Homo sapiens: one gene and its partners. The protein of the gene in region 1 interacts with the protein of each later gene in a pairwise test. Each region holds a gene or a part of one and is shown on either strand. Other genes may lie near its edges.

The links.
Region 2: the proteins of ZNF76 (region 1) and NRIP2 interact in binary tests that used the Homo sapiens proteins (3 or more experiments, as listed by UniProt).
Region 3: the proteins of ZNF76 (region 1) and PMPCA interact in binary tests that used the Homo sapiens proteins (3 or more experiments, as listed by UniProt).
Region 4: the proteins of ZNF76 (region 1) and FNDC8 interact in binary tests that used the Homo sapiens proteins (3 or more experiments, as listed by UniProt).
Region 5: the proteins of ZNF76 (region 1) and TGS1 interact in binary tests that used the Homo sapiens proteins (3 or more experiments, as listed by UniProt).
Region 6: the proteins of ZNF76 (region 1) and FSD2 interact in binary tests that used the Homo sapiens proteins (3 or more experiments, as listed by UniProt).
Region 7: the proteins of ZNF76 (region 1) and LAP3 interact in binary tests that used the Homo sapiens proteins (3 or more experiments, as listed by UniProt).

What each region holds. Positions count from the first base shown.
Region 1 is NC_000006.12:35,283,735-35,287,234, forward strand, and holds part of ZNF76 (zinc finger protein 76), read left to right. Parts: intron 1-2,391; exon of another isoform or gene 2,392-2,393; coding exon 2,394-2,474; intron 2,475-2,587; coding exon 2,588-2,665; intron 2,666-2,696; exon of another isoform or gene 2,697-3,240; coding exon of another isoform or gene 3,241-3,256; intron 3,257-3,500. UniProt on the Homo sapiens protein: May be involved in transcriptional regulation.
Region 2 is NC_000012.12:2,828,536-2,832,035, reverse strand, and holds part of NRIP2 (nuclear receptor-interacting protein 2), read left to right. Parts: exon of another isoform or gene 1-252; intron 253-1,150; exon of another isoform or gene 1,151-1,175; coding exon 1,176-1,328; exon of another isoform or gene 1,329-1,819; intron 1,820-3,500. UniProt on the Homo sapiens protein: Down-regulates transcriptional activation by nuclear receptors such as NR1F2.
Region 3 is NC_000009.12:136,413,658-136,417,157, reverse strand, and holds part of PMPCA (mitochondrial-processing peptidase subunit alpha isoform 1 precursor), read right to left. Parts: intron 2,606-3,500; coding exon 2,511-2,605; exon of another isoform or gene 2,483-2,510; intron 868-2,482; coding exon 767-867; intron 208-766; coding exon 1-207. UniProt on the Homo sapiens protein: Substrate recognition and binding subunit of the essential mitochondrial processing protease (MPP), which cleaves the mitochondrial sequence off newly imported precursors proteins.
Region 4 is NC_000017.11:35,120,421-35,124,414, forward strand, and holds the start of FNDC8 (fibronectin type III domain-containing protein 8), read left to right. Parts: upstream 1-1,194; 5' UTR 1,195-1,273; coding exon 1,274-1,482; intron 1,483-3,994.
Region 5 is NC_000008.11:55,783,446-55,786,945, reverse strand, and holds part of TGS1 (trimethylguanosine synthase), read right to left. Parts: intron 1,228-3,500; coding exon 1,055-1,227; intron 709-1,054; coding exon 1-708. UniProt on the Homo sapiens protein: Catalyzes the 2 serial methylation steps for the conversion of the 7-monomethylguanosine (m(7)G) caps of snRNAs and snoRNAs to a 2,2,7-trimethylguanosine (m(2,2,7)G) cap structure.
Region 6 is NC_000015.10:82,764,570-82,768,069, reverse strand, and holds part of FSD2 (fibronectin type III and SPRY domain-containing protein 2), read left to right. Parts: intron 1-2,038; coding exon 2,039-2,172; intron 2,173-2,771; coding exon 2,772-2,904; intron 2,905-3,500.
Region 7 is NC_000004.12:17,604,698-17,608,197, forward strand, and holds the end of LAP3 (cytosol aminopeptidase), read left to right. Parts: intron 1-2,131; coding exon 2,132-2,241; intron 2,242-2,702; coding exon 2,703-2,892; 3' UTR 2,893-3,273; downstream 3,274-3,500. UniProt on the Homo sapiens protein: Cytosolic metallopeptidase that catalyzes the removal of unsubstituted N-terminal hydrophobic amino acids from various peptides.

The DNA of each region.
Region 1 (3,500 bases):
CAGAACCCCAAGTACTGATGCCCTTGCCAGGACAGATAAATTGTTAAAATGAGGGTAGCCTACTGCTCTGTGGGTGGGAGGGAAGAAAATGGGTTCATCTTCCCCCCATCTCAGCTGCCTTTCCTATTTCTTACCTTTATCTCCACCTTACCTGCCTTTGGTTAGTTGTAGGACTGTTAGTTACTGACCCCAAGAAGACTCAGTTTGGGAGCAAGTTTGGGGATTCCTCTAAAGGGGAGACGTCAGCAGAGACTTGGGCTGGAAGTAACTGTCTTTCCCACCTGAGCGCTCAGTTTCCTAAACCTCAATCTTCTAAGGAAAGGACAAATCACTTGTCATTAACTTTTTTTTTATTTTTTCTTCCTTTTTTTTTTTGAGACGGAGTCTCACCCTGTAGCCCAGGCTGGAGTGCAGTGGCGTGATCTCGGCTCACTGCAACCTTCGCCTCCCGGGTTCAAGCGATTCTCCTGCCTCAGCCTCCCGAGTAGCTGGGACTATAGGCATGTGCCATCACGCCTGGTTAATTTTTTTGTATTTTTAGTAGAGACACGGTTTCATGATGTTGGCTAGACTGGTCTCGAACTCCCGACCTCAGGTTATCCGCCTGCCTCAGCCTCCCAAAGTGCTGGGATTATAAGTGTGAGCCACCACACCCAGCCTTACTTTTTTGTTTTTTCTTTTTGAGACAGGACCTCACTCTGTCACCCAGGCTAGAGTGCAGTGGTACAATCTCAGCTCACTGCAACCTCCGCCTCCCGGGTTCAAGTGATTCTCCTGCCTCAGCCTTCCGAGTAGCTGGGACGACAGGTACCTGCCTCCACACCCAGCTAATTTTTTTGTATTTTTAGTAGAGACAGGGTTTCACCATGTTGGTTAGGCTGGTCTCAAACTCCTGACCTCAGGTGATCTGCTCGCCTTGGCCTCCCAAAGTGCTGGGATTACAGATGTAAGCCACCGTGCCCAGCCTTTTTATTTATTTATTTTTTATTTTTTTCAGACAGGGTCTTACTCTGTCACCCAGGCTGGACTGCAGTGGCATAATCACGGCTTACTGCAACTTCTGCCTCCTGGGCTCAAGCAATCCTCCCACCTCAGCCTCCCGAGTAACTGGGACCACAGGCATGCACTACTACATCCAGTTAATTTTTGTGTTTTTTGTAGAGACAGGGTTTTGTCACATAGCTCAGGCTGGTCTCAAACTCCTGAGCTCAAGCGATCCACCCGCCTTGGCCTCCCAAAGTGTTGGGATTATAGGCATGAGCCACCGAATCTGACCATCATTAACTCTTCAATCTCCCTTTCTTTCCTTTCTCATTTCTCTTCTTCCTTCCCCCTCTGTCAGACTCACTGGACACAAGGAAGGGTCGTCTAGTTCTAATTTCAAGAGCCTTATTAGAAGTGCTTTCCAGTAAGGTAAAGGAAGAGTAATATCTTAGGAAATCTGGAGGCTTGTTAATTTTTATGCTGCTTGTTGTGTTGCCTTAGGTGATCTAATTTTTTACTAGAAAATTGAAATGAAAAATGAGAGGTCAATGAAGGAACATTACTCAACAGTGGCAGTGGAATAAGACCTTCATGGACACATAATAGCATAATAGTTGTGCTCACATAGTTCTCTATTGCTTTACTTTCCATTTCTTCTAAAATGCATATTGGGCTTATAATAAAAGCTAGGATTTATTGAGGGCTGACCATATATACCTGGCACTCTTCCCAGTTTTTTATATTCGTTAACTCATTTAACCCTAACAGCAACCCTATAAGAGACACAGTTTTCAATCCCCATTTTAAGAAAAGGAAACTGAGGCACAGAGAGGTTAGTTAAATAAGCTGTCCAAGGTCACACAGCTGTTAAGAGGTAGAGCTGGAATTCAAACTCTGGAGGCCTGGCCTGGTTCCAGAGTCTATTGTTTTTAACCATTAAGCTATATATCCTGCCTTCACAGGGGCTCCTGGTCTTAGCACACTGTCATAGTGAGGGATGAGGGGATATGTTTTGATTTTGTTAGTTTGAGCTATATCTGAATTTTGACCCACTGGGGCTCATCCAGGTTTAAGGGCCATTAGTTCAAGTCTCAGCAACTTACTATTAGGTTGGAAGTTTCCACTTGGCTGGGCATGGGTAGAATAATAAGTGAAGTTATTCCTCCTGTTAGTAACTGGAAGGGAATCTGTTGGGAGGTGATGGGTTCGGCAAGGCAAGTGTCTTCACCCTTAGTGTCTCAAGGCCCAGGCCCAGGGAGACAGAGCAAGGGAACAAGGAAGATGTTACCCATGCTTAGACCTGCAGGCTCGTGCCTAGAGACTCAAATAAGCCTCAGCTAAAAACAGGCAGGCGTTTCTTAGCCCTCTTCTGGTCCTGGCCCATTTCTCTCTATTTCCACTCTTAACAGGAGAGAAGCTTCTTGAAGGGCAGGTGATCCAGCTCGAGGATGGGACCACCGCATACATTCACCAGGTGACGGTACAGAAAGGTGAGGGCACCCCAACACACCATGCCTTGTCGAGGGAAGCCTGACAGCCCCCACCAAGGGACCCCTCCATGGCACTGAGCTCCAGGGAAAGGCAGGCATTGCTCTCGTTACAGAAGCTCTCTCCTTTGAGGATGGTCAGCCTGTGCAGCTGGAAGATGGCAGCATGGCTTACATACACCGCACACCCAGAGGTAGGGTCACCATCATCACAACTCGGGGAAGGATGGGAGGCAGGACTGGAGGATGGGGTGGCAGGACTGGAGGATGGGATGGCACACAACTGGGGTGTAGACATGGGAGCTGTCATCTCCATGGTACACACATGCTCACCTGGATTAGCAGCCTTGCCCACCTTCCCTGGTGCAGACCACAGGAGCAGCTATGTCTGCAACTGGGAGGTGAGCCTTGGAGATCAGTGACGTGGACTTTGATGGTGGCCTTGGCTCCAGCACAGCCACAAAGTCTTAGGGCTTTAAATAGGACCCGAGGATATCATCCAAGACCAGGAAAAAAAACTAATATTTTAGAATGAAGCTCCTAAGGTGCTGAAGAATAACAATTTATTCCTTCCGCAGGTGGTTTCTTGAGTGACTGTTGCATGCCTGGCGTTGTGTTAGGTGTGCAGTATACAAGACAGAACAAAGTCAGACACAGTCCCCGCTCTCCTAGAGTCTAGAGGGGGAAACAGAAGTGAAACAAGCCATCAGTGATGAACTGATCATTACAAACAGAGATCAGGCTCAGGGAGGGCTTCTCTGAGGTAGTGATGCTTGAGCTGAGAGGTAAAGAATGAGGTAGACTTAGCTGGGGGAAGAGGGATGGCAGGGAGGGTTCAGTACTTCAGGCAGAAGGAATAGCATGTGCAGGCCTAGAGCTGGGGGGAAGAAAGAACAGCACATTCCAGGAACTGCTAGGAGCTAGAGCCCTGGGAGTGAAGGCAGAATGAGCAGGAGGAAACTGGAGAGAGAAAGACAGGGCTGGTGCACTCTGGGTTTGAGTGTCAGGGTGAGGATTTTGGTCTTTATC
Region 2 (3,500 bases), on another chromosome or scaffold:
TCCAGGCTGAAGCTCCAAGCAGATGTATTTGAAAGGTAACAGGTCTGGAGACAGGTTATGAACTTAAGAAGGTGTTCCAAGGATCCGAGAGAGCTGTGGGGAGTCTGGAACACAGGCAGTAACAGAAAGGAAGGATGGAGGCCAGGTACTGTGGCATATGCTTTTGGTCCCAGCTGCTCAGGAGGCTGAGGCTAGAGAATGCCTTGAGCCAAGGAATTAGAGTCCAGTCTGGGCAGCATAGCAAGATCCCATCTTGAAAGAAAAGAAAAAGAAAGAAAAGAAAGAAGAGAGAGAAGGAAAGGAGGGACAGATTGATTCTACACAGGAGGCAAAACTTATAGAATTTGGGAAGTGACTGGATGGAATGGGAGTGGTTGTAGATGAGGGACAGGTCAAAGATGACTCCCAGCATCCTAGTTCTTAAGAGTTTTTTTTGTTTGGTTTTTTTTTTTGAGACAGAGTCTTGCTCTGTCAACCAGACTGGAGTGCAGTGGTGTGATCTTGGCTCATTGCAACCTCTGCCTTCTAGGTTCAGGTGACTATCACACTTCAGCCTCCCGAGTAGCTGGGACTACAGGCACATGCCAATACATCTAGCTAATTTTTGTATTTTTAGTAGAAATAGGGTTTCACCATGTTGGCCAGGCTGGTCTCGAACTCCTGACCTCAAGTGATCCACCCACCTCGGCCTCCCAAAGTGCTGGGAGTACAGATGTGAGCCACCACGCCTGGCCTAGTTCTTGAGTTTCTTACTGTTTTTCATCATACCATCAACCCTGGGATCTGAAGCCCATTGAAGGATGAGGTCAGAGGGGAAGAAAAAAAAAACCCTCCTAGTTAAAAAAAAATGTAAGTTTGAGACAAAACTTCCCCCAAGCATACTAATTCCTGAAATGTCCCTTCGGCTACTAAGTCAGTTTAACAGAGAATGGACCATTCTCCTCTTCCCATTTCTTCACTGCTGAGCAATCTATGGGTGTCCAAGGAAAACGGCATGATTTGATACTGGGGCTTACTCTGCTCTCATTATCTGGGACCCTAGGGTAAACTCCTAGGGTAAGGCTCAGGGCTGGGGGGGTGGGGGGAGCATCCTGGGGTATCTAAGTGGGGTAACTGAGCAGCCTGGATGCCTGGGTTTAGAACTGCCTACCTTCATTGTTTTGTGATGGAGCCAGCAGCCGCGCAGTGTGATCCAAAGACGCCTGGTGGAGGGAAACCCGAATTGGCTTCAGGGGGAGCCTCCCCGGATGCAGGACCTGATTCATGGCCAGGAGAGCAGGAGGAAGACCAGCAGGACAGAGATTCCAGCTCTTCTGGTCAACTGCAAGGTGAGAGGCCTCCCAGGGACACACTTTCATTAACAACCCTGCCTGCACTCACTTCACCTGCTCTCCTTTCTGCTCTGCCCTGATGGGAGAGGGAGGGAGGGAGAAAGGGCACCTCTCTCCCTAGCCTGGACCTAACCAGGATCCTCTACCTCCTTCCTCCCTGCCCCAAGCCATGTCTCCTCGGTGCAACTCCATCTGTCACCACCATTACTCTGCCCCCCTTCCTTGGTCAAAATACAATACTTAAATTAAGTAAGTACTCCTCAGTGTGCTCTACACAGACAAATGGTGTGTGTGCATGGATAACGTAATTCTGGAAAAAACTCATGTGTTCTAAGGCATTGGCCCTGTAATCTCTGGAACCACTTAACCACTCAGTCACTATTGAACATTCGCAATAAATTCCCACTGGTCCTCGGCCACCGTCTTTGCTCTGTGCTTCTTCTATGTGGATTGCTCTTCTTGCTCTCCAATCATTCTGGGTCCGCATTCTGCAAGCAAAAGCCCAGCTCAGATGTTACCTCCTCCTTGAAACCTTTTCTGATTTCCCCAGTAGGAAACAGCCTTTCCTCCCTCCCAACCTCTAAGGCATGTTACTCACGTCCTTTTTTTAAAAAAAAAAATTTTTTTTGAGACAGAGTCTCGCTCTGTCACCCAGGCTGGAGTGCAGTGGCATGATCTTGTGTCACTGCAGCCTCTGCCTCCTGGGTTCAAGCGATTCTCCTGCCTCAGCCTCCTAAGTAGCTGGGACTATAGGCCCACACTACCACACTTGGCTAATTTTGTATTTTTAGTAGAGATGGGGTTTCTCCAGGTTGGTCAGGCTGGTCTCAAACTCCTGACCTCAGGTGATCCATCCACCTCGGCCTCCCAAAGTGCTGGGATTACAGGCGTGAGCCACCGCACCCCTCGACTTTTCCGGTCCTTTTGTTTATTTTTTAGAGACAGATTCTTACTCTGTCACCCAGGCTGGAGTGTAGTGGCATGATCAGAGCTCATTGCAGCCTCAACCTCCTGGACTCAAGCGATCCTCCCACCTCAGTCTTCTGAGTAGCTAAAATTACAAGTGTGCGCCACCACAGCTGGCTAATTCTTTTTTTGTATTTTTAGACTACCACGTTGGTCAGGCTGGTCCTGAACTCCTGGCCTCAAGCGATCCTTCCACCTTGGCCTCCCAAAGTGCTTGGATTATAGATAGGTGTGAGCCACAGGGCCAGGGCATTCACATCCTTTTATAGACCATAAAACTTTCTGCCATATAGTAGAGTTATATTATACTTCCTTTAGACTCCTGAAGAATAGCATTCATTGATATACCTTCCGGTAACATATCTTATAGTAAATACTCAATGAATGTTTGGAATGAGAAAACGATGTGTGTGTATATCCAAGCGTATATCAAAATGTCTATGTCCCAAAGTAGGTGAAGTTGTCTTCCTTTGTTTCCAATAGCGAACTTCTTGGTTACTCATATCTGAGTTTCCTAACAGGGATTCCAGTCTTCTCATCCTTCCTCTATTCCTAACCTGGAGTTTTCGAACCAGGAGGCCATCAAACTCCCAAGGATTCCTCTAAACAAACAAATCACCGTTTCTCCATTTCTGGCAGATCTTCCCCAAACTTATGAACCCATCACATATAACCACTTTTTTTTTTTCCATTTTATTTTTTGTAGAGACAGAGTCTTGCTATGTTGCCTAGGCTGGTCTTGAACTCCTGGCTTCAAGTGATCCTCTTGCCTCCAAAGTGCTAGAACTACAAGCATGAGCCACCGCACCTGGTCCACTTCCTTTTTTGATTTATTTATCTGGGAGTTCTGCCCCTATTGTATGAGTCTCATAAAAACCAGTTTTTTTGTTTGTTTTGAGACAGAGTTTTGCTCTTGTTGCCCAGGCTGGAGTGTAATGGCGTGATCTTGGCTCACCACAACCTCCGCCTCTCGGGTTCAAGCGATTCTCCTGCCTCAGCCTCCCGAGTAGCTGGGATTACAGGCATGCGCCACCACACCCAGCTAATTTTGTATTTTTAGTAGAGACAGGGTTTCTACTAAACCCTGGTCAGGCTGGTCTTGAACTCCCGACCTCAGGTGATCCACCCGCCTCGGCCTTCCAAAGTGCTGGGATTACAGGCGTGAGCTACCGCGCCTGGCCCCGATAAAAGCCAGTTTTAAAG
Region 3 (3,500 bases), on another chromosome or scaffold:
GCTCCCCCAGGCCGGCTGGACCCCCAGGAGGTACTTCCGGGCACAGTCCACCAGATGCTCGTGCTCCACGCCCACGCCGGCCAGCACCATGCGGTCGGGAGTGTAGTAGTTCCTCAGGTAGGAATGCAGCACCTCTCGGTTGATCTTTGCTACGTTTTCTGTGGGGCAGAAACGGTGGAGGCCAACTGTGTTCTCCCTGTAAGCCGCCTAATGGGGAAGAGCCACAGACACAGGTGACTGAAGACAGCATGACCAGGCTTCCTCCAACAAGCAGCACCAGCGCCCATCTGCAGCCAGCCCTGGGAAAATCCGACGCAAGCTGATATTTTACTTGCACTCTGGCAATAGCAGCTGCGTGCGTATTTATAAAGAGTAAAATCTGCCTCTCCAGAATACAAATTCACAAAAAGCCTAAGATTAATTGTGTTTAGTAGTAAAGACCTAGTTACTATAAAAACTGGAAAATACGAACATTGTATAAACAGCAGACTCAGAAATCAAGAATGTTCTAAGCTGAGTGCGGTGACTCACGCCTGTAATCCCAGCTACTTGGGAGGCAGAGGCAGGAGGATCACCTGAGCTGAGCCCAGGAGTGCAAGACCAGCGTAGGCAATGTGGAGAAACCTCATCTCAAAAAACAAAAAAATGTTCTGTATATATCCATAACCTGCAAGGACAACATCACGGAGGCACCCTCCCCACCACCCCTGGTGTCCCGAGGACCACTGTTCGAGATGCGGGGGCATTCTCGAGTTTGACATTTTACTTCATGAATCATCTCGGTGAGAAGTGGCTCTGGGTCAGGCCGCAGGTTCAGGTCCTCCAGCTCAAACTGGACCGCCATCCGCGTCATCTCGACTTCTTCATCTGCAAGAGAACCCAAAGGCCAGGGCTGAGTCTGCACAGGCAGAGATGAGGAACACAGCAGTGACCCACAGCTTGTGTGCTGGCCTGAGTGTCGCCTGTTGGTGGCTGTTGGCAGTCACCTCTGCCTTCATCTAGGGGCAGACTGGGTGCTTGTGTGAGTGAGGGGGACTGCTACAGGGAGCAGGAGCTAGGGGACCTGGGCCTCACATCCCGCCTCAGCCATGAAGCAGCCACGTGAGCCTGCTAAGCCCTGGCTTCCTTGCTGGTGAAAGGCACCGAAGACACTGGACCTGTCTGTCCCAAGTGCTGCTGTGAGGACACGAGACCAGACATGAAGGTGCTTAGAAACAGAGGCACACGCTGGGTGCGGTGGCTCACGCCTGTAATCCCAGCACTTTGGGAGGCCGAGGTGGGTGGATCACCTGAGGTCAGGAGTTCAAGACCAGCCTGGCCAGCACTGTGAAACCCCATCTCTACTAAAAATACAAAAATTAACTGGGCGCGGTGGCGGGCGCCTGTAATCCCAGCTACTCAGGAGGCTGAGGCAGGAGAATCACTTGAACCTGGGAGGTGGAGGTTGCAGTGAGCCGAGATCGCGCCACTGCATTCCAGCCTGGGTGACAGAGACAGACTCTATCTCCAAAAAGAAACAGAGGCACAGACAGATGTCAAGGGCGCCTTTCATCAGTTGTGACCACAAGATCTTAACGTGGGACTGTAGCCTTTGAACACCAAGCGCAAGCTGCTGTGAAACTGCACCCTTAGGGTATCTGGAAAAGCCAACGTTCCCCTCTCCTGGTCCACCCCTGACAGGGACTCAAAGTCCTGCCATCTGCAAGGCTGAGGAGGGTAATGGAAACAGTGAAATGGAAATTTCTGGCACACACCATTCCACTTGTTTAAAGACGGTCCGAGGTGCCCTTCCGAAATCAAAGAACCAATTTCGCTAAAAACATCCCACAGGGATGAGGGCACAGATGTCTCAAATACACATTCTCTCAAACACTAAGGACTTTTACAATCACCAGTGGGTTTTTTTTCCTTTTTGTGGAGAACAGAGTCTTGCTATGTTGCTCAGACTGGTCTCGAACTCCTGGGCTGAAGTGATCCTCCCATCTCTACATCCCTAAATGCCGGGATTACAGGCGTGAGCCAGCACGCCTGGCTACTAGCACTATTTCTTTTTCCTTTCTTTCTTTTTTTGAGACAAAGCCTCACTCTGTTGCCCAGGCTGGAGGGCAGTGGCACAATCATGGCTCACTGCAGCCTCAACCTCCCAGGCTCAAACGATCTTCCTACCTCAGCCTCCCGAGTAGCTAGGACTCTAAGTGTAAGCAACCACAGCCAGCTAATTCTTGTATCTTTTTTGTAGAGACAGGGTTTCACCATGTTGCCCAGGCTGGTCTCAAACTCCTGGGCTCAAGCGATTTGCCTGCCTGAGCCTCCCAAAGTCCTGGGATTCCAGGTGTGAGCCACCATGCCCAGCCCCAGCGCTATTTCTTATGAGATCTCGCTGTCACTTTGTGTTGGCCTAAAGCTCCAATTACATGGTGCTCTCCCTCATGGCTACAGGGCTTCTGCAAACCTTTCCGGTCTTCCCTATGTCCAAGCCCACCTCAAACGCCAGCGGCTGGGATCCACACCTGTTAGCCGGGGCTGCAGAACCACATCAGCCAGTAAGGCAACCACCGTGTCCAAGCCTTTGCTATCAGCAGACACAGCATACATGGTGGTGTCTCTGGAAGAAAACACAAGCCCATAATGCCAGGCCCTGAACTCACACTCTGCTTAACAGCCAGGGGACGCTCGGGCTTTGCGTGCCAGGTGGACAATGCCAGGCCCTGAGCTCACACTCTGCTCAACAGCCAGGGGACACTTGGGCTTTGCATGCCAGGGGCACCTACCTTTTGTTGGGGCCCAGCAGACATTTCAGGGACGCTTGGGCTTTGCGTGCCAGGGGACACCTCCTACCCTTCATCGGGGAACAGCAGACACTTTTCCCCTTTCTCTTTTCCTGTCTTACAGTGTGAATGCTTGGTAGGCAGGACTCACAGCTACACACAGCTTGAGTCAAAATGGAGCCACTTCTGATACAGATTTTTGTAACTATACTCTCTCTCAAAAGGTGAAGTGTTTCATCCCAGCCTCCTGTTGACTGAACGAACCCACTGGTGAGTGTGGAAACATGCCCGGCCTTGGCTGGCTTGGGGGACAGCAATGGCTGGCTCGTATGGAGCTTGTCTCACTGTAACATCTGTTCCCGGCATGAGGCACTGCACAGTCAGAAGTGCACAGAGCTGGCCCATGGGACAGGCACGAAATCATGGGGTGCTCTGAGATCAAGTGTGATCAAGGGAGACCATGCAGAGCAGACGCAACAGCCACGAAGAAGAGGGAGCTTGGGAGGCAGGACGCAGTCACCAGTGCCTCTGAAGAGGGGACTTGGCTGGACCTTCACCCTGAAGAGGAGCCATTCTCAGTGACTTTGGCTCTCCACATGGGGAGAATGGCAAGAACAAAAGCCTGAGCTGAGGGCGAGGGGGGCTGGGTCTGAGTCAGGACACCAGCCACCTGGCCAGAGAAAGGAGTTCATCTGGGATGAGTGAGATTCGAGGCAAGAGTCGGAGAATCAA
Region 4 (3,994 bases), on another chromosome or scaffold:
TGCCACCTTGCCCAGCTAATTTTTGTATTTTTTGTAGAGGTTTCGCCTCTACAAAATGGGGTTACACCATGTTGCCCACACAGGTCTCGAACTACTGGGCTCAAACAATCCTCCTGCCTTGGTCTCCCGAAGTGCGGGGATTACAGGTGTGAGCCACCGTGCCCGGCCTCTATTTTTTATTTTATTTTTTATTTTTTTTAAGGGCAAGAAACCTTGGTTATATAGAACACACACAAAAAGATATGATTTGGTATTTTTAAATGTCCTTTGCTTTGCCTCATCCATAGGAAGAAATAAAACTTTACATGGTTATCTCATCACAAATCTGTGAGGGAGGCGCTATTTTTTATCCCTGTTTCACCAATGAAGAAACTGAGGTTCAGTGAGGTTAAATCACTTGCCAAAGGTCACCCAGCTAGGCGGCACAGGGCTGGACTTCACATCCACATCTGACTCTGCAAAGCCAGTGCTTTCTAACAGCCCCCCTCCCCACCCCTGAAGCTGTGTACATGTTTTCCTACTGTAAGGTGGTTTCTCTGAGAGCAGAGATCATGTGTGGCCCATCTCTGTATCCCACTGCAACTGCCACCATTGTCACTCCACACAGGAAAGTACTTGGGAGTGTGGGTGTGGCACATTTAGAATTCTAGCAGTGAAGTCTGATCATATGTGAGCCATGAACCCCTATGAACCATGTGGGCTTTCCCTTTCACTAACCGACTGGGCACAGTGGAGTCTGCAGCCTATGGTTTCAGGATAGAGAGCCTTAGCTTCTACGGACAAAGTTTCCCTCCCCAGCAGACACTTTCCAATACTGCCTATCTCTCAGGGCCACACCACCATCCTCTACATCCCACGCCCATCTCTCACCATCCTTATTCTCCTTCCCAGGGCAGTGCGGAAGGACACAGGTGTCAGGCATTTTGAGATCTTCAGAGAAGGGCAGGGCTGCCATCACCATGGAGTATTAGAGCTGGAAGGGGCCCAAGGGCTCATGCAGTCTGTTCCTTGGTTTTACCCCTCTCATGATGCTGCTTCACAGTCACACTGGCCCTTGGTCTGGCCAGCCACATAGCTAGCCTGGCAGCAGTAGCCTCAAATCAAGGGGGGAGGCTGGCCTGTAATTGTTACACTCTGTGATGATTATGAAGTCAGCTCATTGCACCTGCAGACTGTCCAAACTAAAGGTGGGCCACTGCCCCCACAGTTTCTCTCTGCTTCTGGTCAGCTGGGTTGTCCTGCATGGTGACGGGTGTCATCCCGAACAAATCAGATGGCATCAGAGGCACTCCATCAAGTGGGAGATGGGGAGGAGGCTGTACTGAAGAAAGAAAACTTCAACATGATGAATGCCCTTGACCAACTGCCAAAACCCTTTTCAAACCCCAAGTCTATGAACCGGACCGTCACTACCAAAGGACTCCCACTAGCCTCAAAGGGCAATTTGGTCAACTTCTTGGAGGATGATACCATCAACCTACTGTAAGTCACAAATCTGGTCCCTCCCTCCCTCCCTCCCTCCCTCCCTTCCTTCCTCCCTTCCTTCCTCCCTTCCTTCCTTCCTTCCTTTTTTTTTTTTTTTTTGACAGGATCTTGCTTTGTCACCCAGGCTGGAGTGCAGTGGTGCAATCTCGGCTCACTGCAGCCTTGAATTCTTGAGCTCAAGTGATCTTCCCACCTCCACCTCCCAAGTAGCTGGGACTATTGACGCGCCACCACCACACCTGGCTAATTTTCATATATATATATATATATATATATATATATATATATATATATATATATATAAATTTTTTTTTTTGGTAGAAACGGGGTTTCACCGTGTTGCCCAGGCTGGTCTTGAACTTCCGGGCTCAAGCGATCCTCCCGCCTCAGCCTCCCACAGTGTTGGGATTATAGGCTTGAGCCACCATGCCTATAGTTTCTAAGAAAGGCTGGAGCCGAGGGCTGGGCAGAGAGACAAAGAATCTATACTTCCCTGACTTGTCACAACCCAGTTCCTTGACTCCCAGAGAAGAGCGTGTGGGCAGGTTGGATCTATTTATGTATTCCTGAGCCCCAAATCACTTCTTGGAGGCATATGGAGCTCCCACTCCAGGAGGCCTTCTTGGATTAGTCAGTTTGTTGACAGTGCTCCTTATCCTGCCTTGACTGGCTGTGGTCCTCACCATCACCAAATCCCTGACACACCCATGGCTCCTCTTCCTCAACCCTCTCTCTTTGGTACCTTCATCTACCTGACTGCTCCCCAGTAGCCTGCCTTCCTTCGGACTGGGTTTTGCTGTTCCTCCTCACCAAGTCTGGTTTTCCTCTACTTCATTCCACAAAACTCTTTGAGCACCTGCAAGGTGTCTGTCCCAGTGTTTAAGTTCTGGGAACGCAGAGCTGGAAAGCACAGTCCCTGCCTTTAAGGAGCTCCCAGTCTGGCATGTGGAGGTCAGGGGTGAAAGGATGGGGATCATGCAATAACCAGAATGATATAGCATGGTCTGGTAAGTGCCAGGACAGGATGCCTTGAGGGACCAGAGGGGCTTAGTATAGCTTGAGACTGGGTGCAGTTGAAGGAGGCTTCTTGGAGGAAGTGATATTTGAGCTGAGTCTCCAAGGAAGGAAAGGAGTTAGCCAGTGAAGGGGTGGTGGTACAGGGTGATGTGGGCTGAGGGAATTACTTGCAGGTCACCCACCACATGGGTGAATGACCTGTGCAGTCACAAATAGCCCTGCACTTACAAGGGGCCTGTGCTTAGTTTAATGCTTTTCTGTTACTATCTTCAAATTCAGAATTTTTGAATAAGGGGCTCAGGGTACTTCAATTTGCACTGGGCTCCACAGACTACATAGCTGGTCTTGAGTATGTGAGAGGGATGTGGTGTCCATTCCCCAAAGTGCCCGTAAGCAAGCAGGTATGGCTAAAGTGATGGATGCTCGTAGGAAACTTCATGGTATACTGGGAATCTTGGACTAGAAGCCCAAACTCAGATCCAAGTTCTGCCACTTAGAGATTTATGGTCTTAGACAACTTAATTAAGATCGGAGGCCAGATGGGGTAGCCCACGCCTGTAATCCCAGCACTTTGAGAGGCTGAGGCGGATGCATCACTTGAAGTCAGGAGTTTGAGACCAGCCTGGCCAACATGGTGAAACCTCGTCTCTACTAAAAATACAAAAATTAGCTGGATGTGGTGGCACGCACCTGTTGTCCCAGCTACTCAAGAGGCTGAGGCGGAAGAATCCTTTGAACCTGGGAGGTGGAGGTCGCAGTGAGCCAAGATTGTGCCACTGCACTCCAGCCAGGGGTCTGGGAGACAGAGCAAGGCTCCATAAAAAAAACAAAACAAAACAAAAAAAAAAACAGATCAGGGACCCTCAGCCCCTTGTTTGCCAAATGGGGCTAACATCCATCCAGCAGAGCTGTTGTGAACATCAGGAGGAGGAGATGTTCAGCATGTAGCCAGTGCCTAGCGGCCTTCTGTGCTTGCTTCAGTACCAGCATTTGCAGTAAGTGAATCTGAAATATTAATTCATTAGGACAATCTAAAGCACATATGACATTAATACCCAGACTCTTCAGTCTACAAAAGACCTTGGTGGGGGAATCATTTATTCCAAATGTCCACCAAGCGCTAGCATAGGGGATCTGGGCTAATCAGGATTTCTCAGGAGGAGGCTGATGAGGCTGGAACCTGGGGAGGAAAAACTTGGCCCGTTCATCAACCAAGACCTGGGAGGCTGGATGGGAGTAAGGGATCCACAAACTGTGGATTGTGACCTATTAATGGGTCAAGAAGTCCTTCTAGTTGGTGAAGACCACTATGATAAAAATAAACTGGCTGGGTGCAGTGGCTCACGCCTGTAATCCTAGCACTTTGGAAGGCCAAGGCGGGCAGACCACGAGGTCAAGAGATCGAGACCATCCTGGCCAACATGGTGAAACCCCTTCTCTACTAAAAATACAAAAATTAGCTGAACATGGTGGCCGCACCTGTAGTCCCAGC
Region 5 (3,500 bases), on another chromosome or scaffold:
ACTTAGCTGTTGATGACCATCATGACTTGTACAGGAATCTAATTGGCTCTGTGTTACTTCCTCTGAATTCAGTTTTATGTTACTAATTCCATCAAGTATTTCACTATGATCCTTATCACTTGTACCAGAGCTATCATTATCAACCATAATAGGTGAAGATGGAAAAGATACTAAGTCAACTTTCATGCATTTTTCATCGTTCTTGTCATCAGCTTCTGTTTTAGATGTGTAAGTATCTGTATCACAGCTTTGCGAGGCATCAAAAGTCCAACCCTGAGCTTCCCAATACTGAAATTGTTCCAAATAATACCAATAAAGTTGACTATAATGTTGCTCCCATTCTTCCTTTGTATCAGGAAAGTTCCAAGGTTCAGAAGATAGTGCTTGACCCGGATGTTTTTCTTGCCAACTTTGCCACAATAGTCCTCCTCCATATTCATTCCAATACTTTTCCCATTTCTCTGTAATTTCTAGCTTTGGAGATAATGTGTTTTCAACTGGAGGATTTTCTGTCTCAGTATCTTTTTTGCTTTGAAGTTCATATGTTCTGGTGTTCTCATACTGTTCAATTGAAGATGGATCATCTGAAGCCAAAATGTCGTCTTCTTCATATTCTTTTCTCCAAGATTCTTGCACAATTTCATCTAAGTATTTCTTTTGATGTTTTTTCTTTTTTATTTTAACTTTATTTCTAGTATTCATAGATACCTATATCAGATAAATAACTTGAATATAAAATGCACTTTATGAACTATAAAAGAAAGTAGAATCCAAGTCTATTTTGACATTAAATTAAACAAAATACTCTAAAGCCCCACTATGGGCTTTTAGCTCCACAAACAAGTGATATACTATCTAAGTTTCCAAGAGGAGGAACAGTCACACTTGGGACATATTACAACTTTCAGTTCTGGTTAATTTATAAATACATACATTTAAAAAGAGGTAGAGAGCGCTGATCGTGAATGCATATAATCTGATAAAAAGTAATTCCTTGCGATATTTTATAAAGAAAACGAAGAGAGAGAAATAATAAAAGTAAATTAATATTTACCTCAAAATCCTTATGTGCAGTTATCCTACCAAATTGAAGTGGCAATCCCATACTTCTCATGAGTTCAGCCTCAGAATCAAGTTCACTTTCATCCAGGCCTATGCCTTTGCTGTCATGTGATTCTGCAGTACCACAGGAATAACCACCTTCCTCTTCTTCTGTCGCCTGGTCTCCTATAGACACCATTTATTAGCTTAGTTTTAAGGAAAACTTAAGAGGCAGGTTTTCTTATTCTCATTTAAAAAAACCTGAGATCCAGAGTGACCCGCCCAAAATAAAGGTATGCAAATGTTACAATTTTTTTTATTTTTTAGAGATGGGGGTCTCACAACACTGCCCAGGTTGGAGTATAAGGGCTATCTGCAGGTGTGATCATAATGCACTAAAAAGCTCTGAACTCCCGGGCTCAGTCAGTCCTCTTGCCTCAGCCTCACAAGCAGCTAGGATTACAGTTGCATGCCACCTTGCCTGGCCTGCAAAGTTACAATTTTTAAAGGAAAAAAGAAAACAAACAAACAAAAAAACAATTGACGGTATGCTGGGCACGGTGGCTCACACCTGTAATCCCAGCACTTTCGGAGGCTGAGGCAGGCGGATCACTTGAGGTCAGGAGTTTGAGACCAGCCTGGCCAACATGGTGAAAACCCGTCTCTACCAAAAATATAAAAATTAGCTGGGCCCAGGCTGTAATTCCAGCTACTCAGGAGGCTGAGGCAGGATAATTGTTTGAACCTGGGAGACAGAGGTTGCAGTGAGCCAAGATTGTGCCACTGCACCCCAGCCTGGGTGAGAGAGCGAGACTCTGTCTCAAAAAAAAAACAAAAAACAAAAAACAAAAAACACCAATTGACAGTAATATGGAGTAGTAACAAAAAAAGCCAATGAAGAATCAACGGAAGAATCAATTTCTTATTGGGCTCTGCCTGCCACTATTCATCCAGCTGCCCATTTAACTTACTCTTATTGAGCATCTGCTCTATGTTGGGCACTGTGCAAAATACTGAGGATGGAAGGAAGACAGAACAGGCCATGTAACCCTGGTACGTGGAGAAAATACTTATATGTTCACATTCTTTATCTGCAAAATTACTGAACTAAGACAGTGAATTTAAAAATCATGATTTGTGAAGTTATTTTAGGAGGTATTAACAAGAGCGGGTGAGAAGCATGTCTTCATGCCCCTCACAGACACTTCAATACAACTGGGATTTAGGTTCCGGGATTCTGTGGAAGAGCTGATTTAACAAAAGGATTCTGCTATTAGAAGTTTGAAATCCTGGGGTTGGGCACAGTGGCTTATGGCTCTAATCCCAGCATTTTGAGAGGCTGCTTGAGGCCAGGAGTTTGAGATAAGCCCGAGCAACACAGCAAGACCCTGTCACTACAAACAAAACCAAAAACCAAAAAACAAACTACCCTGGTGTGGTGGTGCCTGTAGTTCCTGCTACTTGGGAGGCTGAGGTGAGAGGAATGCTTAAGCGATCACCACTCAGACAACAGAGCAAGACCCTCTCTCTCTCTCAAAAAGAGAAAGGTTTGAAATCCCCTAAACTGGAAGATTTTTTTCAAGCTCTCTGAATCTAATTCTTATAGAAAAACCATTTATTACAACAAAGTAAGTTTTACTTTACACCAATATGGTTATCTAATAGTAATTATACCATTAATTGAACATATGCCATTCAAGTGCTCTATTAACTTTAAAATGTGAGATAACAAAAAATCATTTTATGTATTAGCACACTCAATTAGCATTGGGCTGCACTCCAGCTTGATGGTCTCAGGCAACAGAACAGTAAATCTTATATAGCCAAAATGAAGACTGATAAAGAGAAATCTCTTGTGTGCAAATTCTGCTACAAGAGGGAGAAAGATACCTTTCTAAATAATGAAGGGGATTCCACTCACTACTCCATTCAAATATACTTACGAAAGCTCAGGAGACAGCAAAATGGAGAAAATGAGTAAGCTAAGTTTTATGTTCCTTTCATTGTATGCATATTTTCTTATGCTCGAGGAGCCTAGTGTTATAGGAACTTTATTTGTATAGCATAGCACTGAAACACAAACCAAACATTCCATCCAGTGATCAACTGAAGAAACAGTAATTTGTTCCATCGCCATGAGAGTTAAAGGGTTTCCGAAGGTAACTATGACACTGTACTTGGGCTGACTTTGGCTTCTAACTCCACGCTGTAATTTTCTCTGTGTCTAGGAACACAAAAGGTCTATGTGGAAGGACAAATGCAGTAGGGAAGTTTGAGACATCAAAGTGAGGCTCAATGTACAGTATAAATTATATTTGTTACTTGGGAAAGTTAACCAAGATGACAGTCTCTTTACTTCAGGCAAAAGACTATAGATGTTCACCTGGAATTTTTATCCCGTAGCATTTTTTTATCCTGCAGCATTTACCTACATAATACACTTCTCATGAAGTGTATTA
Region 6 (3,500 bases), on another chromosome or scaffold:
ACTCAGTGACCACAAGGGCTCGCAGAACCTATGAGTTTACAGCAGCCTATGATGGAGGAAGCATAGGTTTACCTCTGGTTTACAGAAGTTTGTGAAAGGGGATGAACCACCCAGGCAGGCCAGCACCAGCCACCAGGACCAGGGGCTCCCCTGCTGTGGAACACAGGGGTGCACTGACCTGGAGCTGGAGAAATGAAGAGGTGTTGGTGTCAATTGTTAGGGAAGCAGATTCTTCTATGCTAAATGCCAGGCTTGAAACGTGGCCATATGCCACCCATCCATCTGTTCCAGGTGGAATCTGTGTGTCCATGGCCACACAGAGGCTGACTTTGGTAATCCACTCTGGAGATACTCAGGAGTGGGGCAGTGTGTCCAGTGGTTCTGGCCATCCTAATGGTTCAGGTTTCCTTTGCAATTTATGCTGATACTTTAGGAGCACTTGACACCTGGGACCAACTCACAATGATGAGGTCATCAGAGGGCTGGTCAGTAACCTGAGAGATGACCTGAGAGCTGGTGCATATTCTTCCAGTACAAATCCAATCATGGCGACCCATTGCTGAAGAAAAGGCAAAACTCCTTCACAGGCTCTGGCCCCTTCCTGCCTCTCCAGCTCCTCCCACACCAGCTCCCCTCCCTCTCAAGATCCCACCACATTGGTCATGTTTCAGTTCCTCCTACTTTTCATGCTCCTTCCTGCCACAGGGCCTTGGCACATGCTTCTCCTATGTAGGAGACTCCTCTGTCCCTTTTTCATCCAGTTACCTCCTCAGCATTCTTCAGAGCTCTGCTCAAAAGCCATCCTGCCCCCACCATTATACACTACAGCACACTATCAACTTGTCTTGGTTACCATCTTACATTCCTTCCAGTGATTGCCTGAAGAATGCTGCTCTTCCCATCTAGACTGTAAGCTCTATGAGGGCAGGAACTACATTTGTTTTTTCTGAGGGCCTCCCTATACAGTGCCTGGAACCTAAGGAGTTTAGTTAACATTTATTGAATGCATAAGTAAAAGTGCCCCTCTGGCCCAGAGCTGCAGCCTGAAGATAACCTGGACAACTTGGCCTCATCTGGGTGAGGGTGTTGTATTGGTAAATGGGCATCATCCTAAAGACTTCTCTTGCCCACTGGACTGACATGGGGTTGGCAACCGCAGCAATATAGACAGTGGCAATTATGAGCTTATATTTCTGTATAGTACAATTTAAATACATTGGATTATTTCCAATAGGCAGCTGTTAGGGGGTTAACAGCAGTTAACACTTTCAGCTCTAGTCAGAATTGTTTGCTCATAAACATAAATCAAGGACCTTTTTTTTTTTTTTTTTGAGACAGTCTCACTCTGTCGCCCAGGAGTGCAGTGGCGTGATGATCTCGGTTCACTGCAACCTCCAACTCCCAGGTTCAAGCAATTCTCCTGCCTCAGCCTCCTGAGTAGCTGGAATTACAGGCACCTGCCACCACACTCGGTTAATTTTTGCATTTTTAGTAGAGACGGGGTTTCACCATGTTGGCTAGGCTGATCTCGAACTCCTGACCTCAAGTGACCCACCCGCCTCAGCCTCCCAAAGTGCTGGAATTACAGGCATGAGCCATTGCACCTGGCTGAATTGACGGCCTTCTATGGGCCCAGTACTGTACTAAGAATAGCGGTACTCAGCCCCTGACCTCAGAGACATTATGATCCTAACAGACGGACAGAGACACACTGGATTCTACTGCATGCACACTCCATGATGCAGTGTTAACCATATGCCAAGCACAGTGCTGGGTGCCTGGGAAACCAGAATGAGGGACTTGGAGAGGAGACAGCCACAAACACAAGAAGTAGCAATGAAGTGAGAAAAGCAGACCAGAGACTGTGGGAGGGAATGCAGAGGGGGAGCCAGCACTCCTGGCTATGCTGCTGTTAAATGTGGGTCAGAGGACAGGAGCGCAAGAGTGAGTTAAACCTTCCAGCTTTGAAAGGGATGCCTGGTGCTTGGGCCTGGGTGTCCTAGCCCCATTCTGACTGCAGCTCTGCTTCCTTGTACAGGTCTGTTGTGGGCATCCCGACCTGCGAGTCCGTGGTGCAGCTGCAGCCGGGGCGGAGCTACATTATCTATGTGCGAGCCCTCAATATGGGGGGCCCCAGCGTGAGGAGCGAGCCAGCTACAGTCCACACCATAGGTCTGTGCCCCAGCCCACAAAGTCTCTGGGACCCAAAGTGGCCACTCTGTGGCAGACCCAGTGCTGCTATGACTTCACTGGGAAATTGATGAATATGCACAGATGTGGACACGTGGCAAGTCAGGCCAGAAGGAGTTCAGGGGTGTCCCATACTGCCCTAATTGCAAGTCAAATGGATCATTAAGAAGTCCTTCAATTCCTATTTCCCTTGGCAAATAGGTTAGAAATTCTTATCCATACACAGGCATTACAGCTAGAGGTAAAGAGCACAGCCTCTGGAATCAGAGGGGCTTGGGGTTCAAGTTTAAGTTCTATCATTTGCCAGCTGATTTCTTAACCACCTTGTGCCTCTGTTTCCTCATCTACAAAATGGAAATAGTGACACCTGTTTCTAAGGGTCGTCGTGAGGATTGAAGGGGATACTAGGCACACAAGACTGCCCGATGAGTGTCAATTGCCATCCTTGTTAACTGGACGCCTATTACTAGGCCAGGTCCAGGCTTAGGTGTATCCCACACGAAGCTAAACCGGTGACCACCGCCCACATGGAGAAAGCAAGTGATTGGCTGCGGGTCTTCTGTGTGTTCCTCCTCCCACAGGAAGCTACTTTCGCCTAAACAAGGACACTTGCCATCCCTGGCTGACCATTTCTGAAGACGGACTTACGGCTGTACGAAGTGAAAGGAGAACCCCCGCCAGGGAGCTGTCACCCAGCGACACTCACTTCACCAGGTACTTTGTCAACCGCTCACAAGGGCGTTCTGTGAACTTCCCGAAGGTGCACTGTTATTCAGGTCAAATCCGAATATGGCACGGAGGCAGCCTCGAGGGAAAAGGAATCCTACAAATGAGTGAGGAGGGAGGAGCCTAATGGGGAGGGGACCCAGAGGAGTGTGGGCAAGAGGGGTCAGGCAGGTGCAGGCAGAAGAGCCCCCTGGGACGGTGAGGTCAGGAGAGGGCGCGGTCCCCTGGGAGGGCATGGTCCCTGGGTCCTAGGCTGCCAGAGCTGGAGCAGCCAGAGGTCATGAGGGTGGGACAGGAATTACTAGTGGAGGGTGTCCAAGTTCTTGGCGTTCTGAACAAAGAATTGGACAAAATGCACAAACAAAGCAAGGAAAGAGGCCAGGCACGGTGGCTCATGCCTGTAATCACAGCACTTTGGGAAGCCGAGGCAGGCAGATCACCTGAGGTCAGGAGTTTGAGACCAGCTTGGTCAACATGCTGAAACCCCATCTCTACTAAAAATATAAAAATTAGCCGGGCCTGTTGCGGGTGCCTGTAATCCCAGCTACTCGGGAGGCTGAGGCAGAAGAATTGCTTGAACCCGC
Region 7 (3,500 bases), on another chromosome or scaffold:
AGAGATGGTGAATAAATTATTCTAGCCTTAGAAGGATAGACTTCTTCAACCCTGTGTTAAAGTGATTTTTATGCCGCAGGTTTGCCTTTGAATTGAAAATGAACCACAGCAATAGATTGAGTTCAGTGGCATTGGGTTTTCCACAAATGCTCCTAAAGGAGGGGATGATGCCCCCTGCTCCCCTCCGGTAGCCTCAGCGTCCTGTGAAAATATCTCACGAACACTGTGGTCATAGTTTTAGAATCCCTGAGGTAGAAATGGTTTTGAAGATGGCTTTGTGGAGCAGCGTTTGTGACTGCGTGTCGTGAGTCATATAAGGGAGTTCACCCTGCATCGATGAGGATGTCTTCAGACCGCTGTGCTCTGTGCCTCCCTCCATGCCCTTCACAGCCAGCCTCTTCCCAGCAGTCACCCTCACTTCCACACACACACACACACACACACACACACACCCTCACTTACTGCCATTGGTTTTCGAATGTCCACACCACTGTTAGCCTAACTCAGCCTGTCTTGAGGCAGCAGGTGACTCTGTGGCCTCCTGACACCTGGTTCAGCTTCTGTGATAATCCTTTCTTGGGCTGCCTCCTGTGATTCTCCTGCTCCTGTCTCCTGACGTGTTTGTTCCCTTTGGCCGCCCTTTGGCTGGTGTTCAATTCAAGGCCATAGGCTCTTCCTACTCTACACATTCCTCACATGGAAGCTCCAGCCAACACATGTTGCCTGATGGCTCCCATCTCTCTCCCGAGTCCCAGCCTCTGTGTACCCATGTGGCTGCTAGACAGCTCCAGCTGGCTGCTTACTCATTCATTCAACTAGTAATTAATGGGAGCTTACTCTGTGCCAGTGGGAGGGGAGACAAACATAAAATGTCCCCAAATATAATCCTGAGGGTGGTTTAAGGTCTAAACTTATTTTCACTCTAAACTGCTTCTCCTTCATATATGTCATCATTCACGAAGCCCAATTTTCCCAGTTCTGCAATACTCAGCCCCATCATCTTCTTCCAGGCCGGGCCAGGAACCTCTCCTCTGGCCTCCCACATAACCGTTATCCCTCTCTTTCATGGCACCCACAATATTGTTGTTTTGACTTTTAAAAAACATTTAAGCTTTAAAAAAAAAATCTCAGTTATATGTGCATAAATCAACAATCAGCAGCCCACAGTCTGTTTTCCAGAAGGCAGCCACTTTCAACCCTTGGCTGATTCATCTGGTATTTACTTATGTCTTAAAATAACAGCTTATATTGCTGCTTCTTGATTTTTCACTTTTAGGTCTTTGATTTTTTACCAGTGAGTTAAATAATCTGTTTATGTATCTGTTTCTCCTACTAGCCTGTAGGCCCTTGGGTGGCTCAGATGGTAGTATTTCAGCACACCTGGTGGTGCTCAGTAGTTCAGTAAACGATGAATGAGTGAGTGGGTAAGTGATGAATGAATGAATGTGGTCATCCTGTCTCAGGATTTCAGTGATACAGGTCCAGTCGTGTGTTTCTGTCACATAGAAGTGACCCGCCACATAAGAACTCTTTCACCCTCATCAACCCACAAAGCCTGTAATTGTAGTTTGATGATTTTAGCAAAATGCCCTACAGATTTGTGAAATTGCTTCACAGCATTCCCGGTTTCTTTTTATTTTTTATTTATTTATTTATTTTTGAGACGGAGCCTCGCTCTGTCGCCAGGCTGGAGTGCCGTGGCACTCCGTTGGCTCCCTGCAACCTCCCCGTCCTGGGTTCAAGCAATTCTCCTGCCTCAGCCTCCGGAGTAGCTGGGACTACAGGCGCGCACCACCACGCCCAGCTAATTTTTTGCATTTTTAGTAGAGACAGCGTTTCACCATGTTGGCCAGGATGGTCTCGATTTCTTGACCTCGTGATCCACCCGCCTCGGCCTCCCAAAGTGCTGGGATTATAGGCGTGAGCCACTGTCCCCAGCCTCCTGGTTTCTTTTATAGTTCTAAAATAAATCTTTTAATGAGTGGACACAATTCTGAAACCTATTTTCTAGTTTCATGTTTTAGAGTAACAGGTTAGAACAACTCTTCCTTCATGCATTGAGCATGTTAATGCCATGAATTTCCCACAACCTGCCTCATCCACTCTTCCACCTGTCATACCTGTTCTCTAGGCCAGCATTGAAACAGGGGACCGTGTCTGGAGGATGCCTCTCTTCGAACATTATACAAGACAGGTTGTAGATTGCCAGCTTGCTGATGTTAACAACATTGGAAAATACAGGTATGTAAGCTAAGCTAAATGTACATTTATACAATCATCCTTGATTGCCAAAATAGCTATTTTCAATTTTATCCCCTTATATAAAAGGTTTAACTATTTAATTTCCTTTTGGTGTAGTGCTTGTAAGATTTTTAATGTCTTGAATTTTCAAGTATTTCTTCAACCAGATTTCAAAATTTGCATATTTCTAATCTAATGGTAATTTTCAATAAATGGTAAGGGAAAGAGATGGAAAATATGGGAATTCATTACCATAGCAAAAAGGAATATAGAATTTATCCTTTACTGCTTAAAGCAATATCTGAAAATAAATATTCTGAAACTGATATGTGGGTTAGCATCTTAATAGGTCTTACAAGCTTGACTCTTGTTCTTTGGTTATAGAATGTACTTAGCAAAAATGTGGGATCTCAGTGCACATTTACATGGGGTTGTAAAGTGCTTTTTGTCTTTCTCTTCAGATCTGCAGGAGCATGTACAGCTGCAGCATTCCTGAAAGAATTCGTAACTCATCCTAAGTGGGCACATTTAGACATAGCAGGCGTGATGACCAACAAAGATGAAGTTCCCTATCTACGGAAAGGCATGACTGGGAGGCCCACAAGGACTCTCATTGAGTTCTTACTTCGTTTCAGTCAAGACAATGCTTAGTTCAGATACTCAAAAATGTCTTCACTCTGTCTTAAATTGGACAGTTGAACTTAAAAGGTTTTTGAATAAATGGATGAAAATCTTTTAACGGAGACAAAGGATGGTATTTAAAAATGTAGAACACAATGAAATTTGTATGCCTTGATTTTTTTTTCATTTCACACAAAGATTTATAAAGGTAAAGTTAATATCTTACTTGATAAGGATTTTTAAGATACTCTATAAATGATTAAAATTTTTAGAACTTCCTAATCACTTTTCAGAGTATATGTTTTTCATTGAGAAGCAAAATTGTAACTCAGATTTGTGATGCTAGGAACATGAGCAAACTGAAAATTACTATGCACTTGTCAGAAACAATAAATGCAACTTGTTGTGCTCTCTGGTGTGGCTCTGATATTTACTTACATATTGCTACAAACCCAGTAACTTATTACTAGAATATCATTCGTCTCTGTAGCCATGTTGTATGAACTATGTAATTAAATTGGGGCACAGTGGCTTATGTATTTTCTCAATGTTCCTCATCACTTAAAGGTACTCAGGGATTGAGCTCATCAGTTTGGGTAATAGTGGCTTGGCCCATGATTTCCAAAATGAATCAGTCA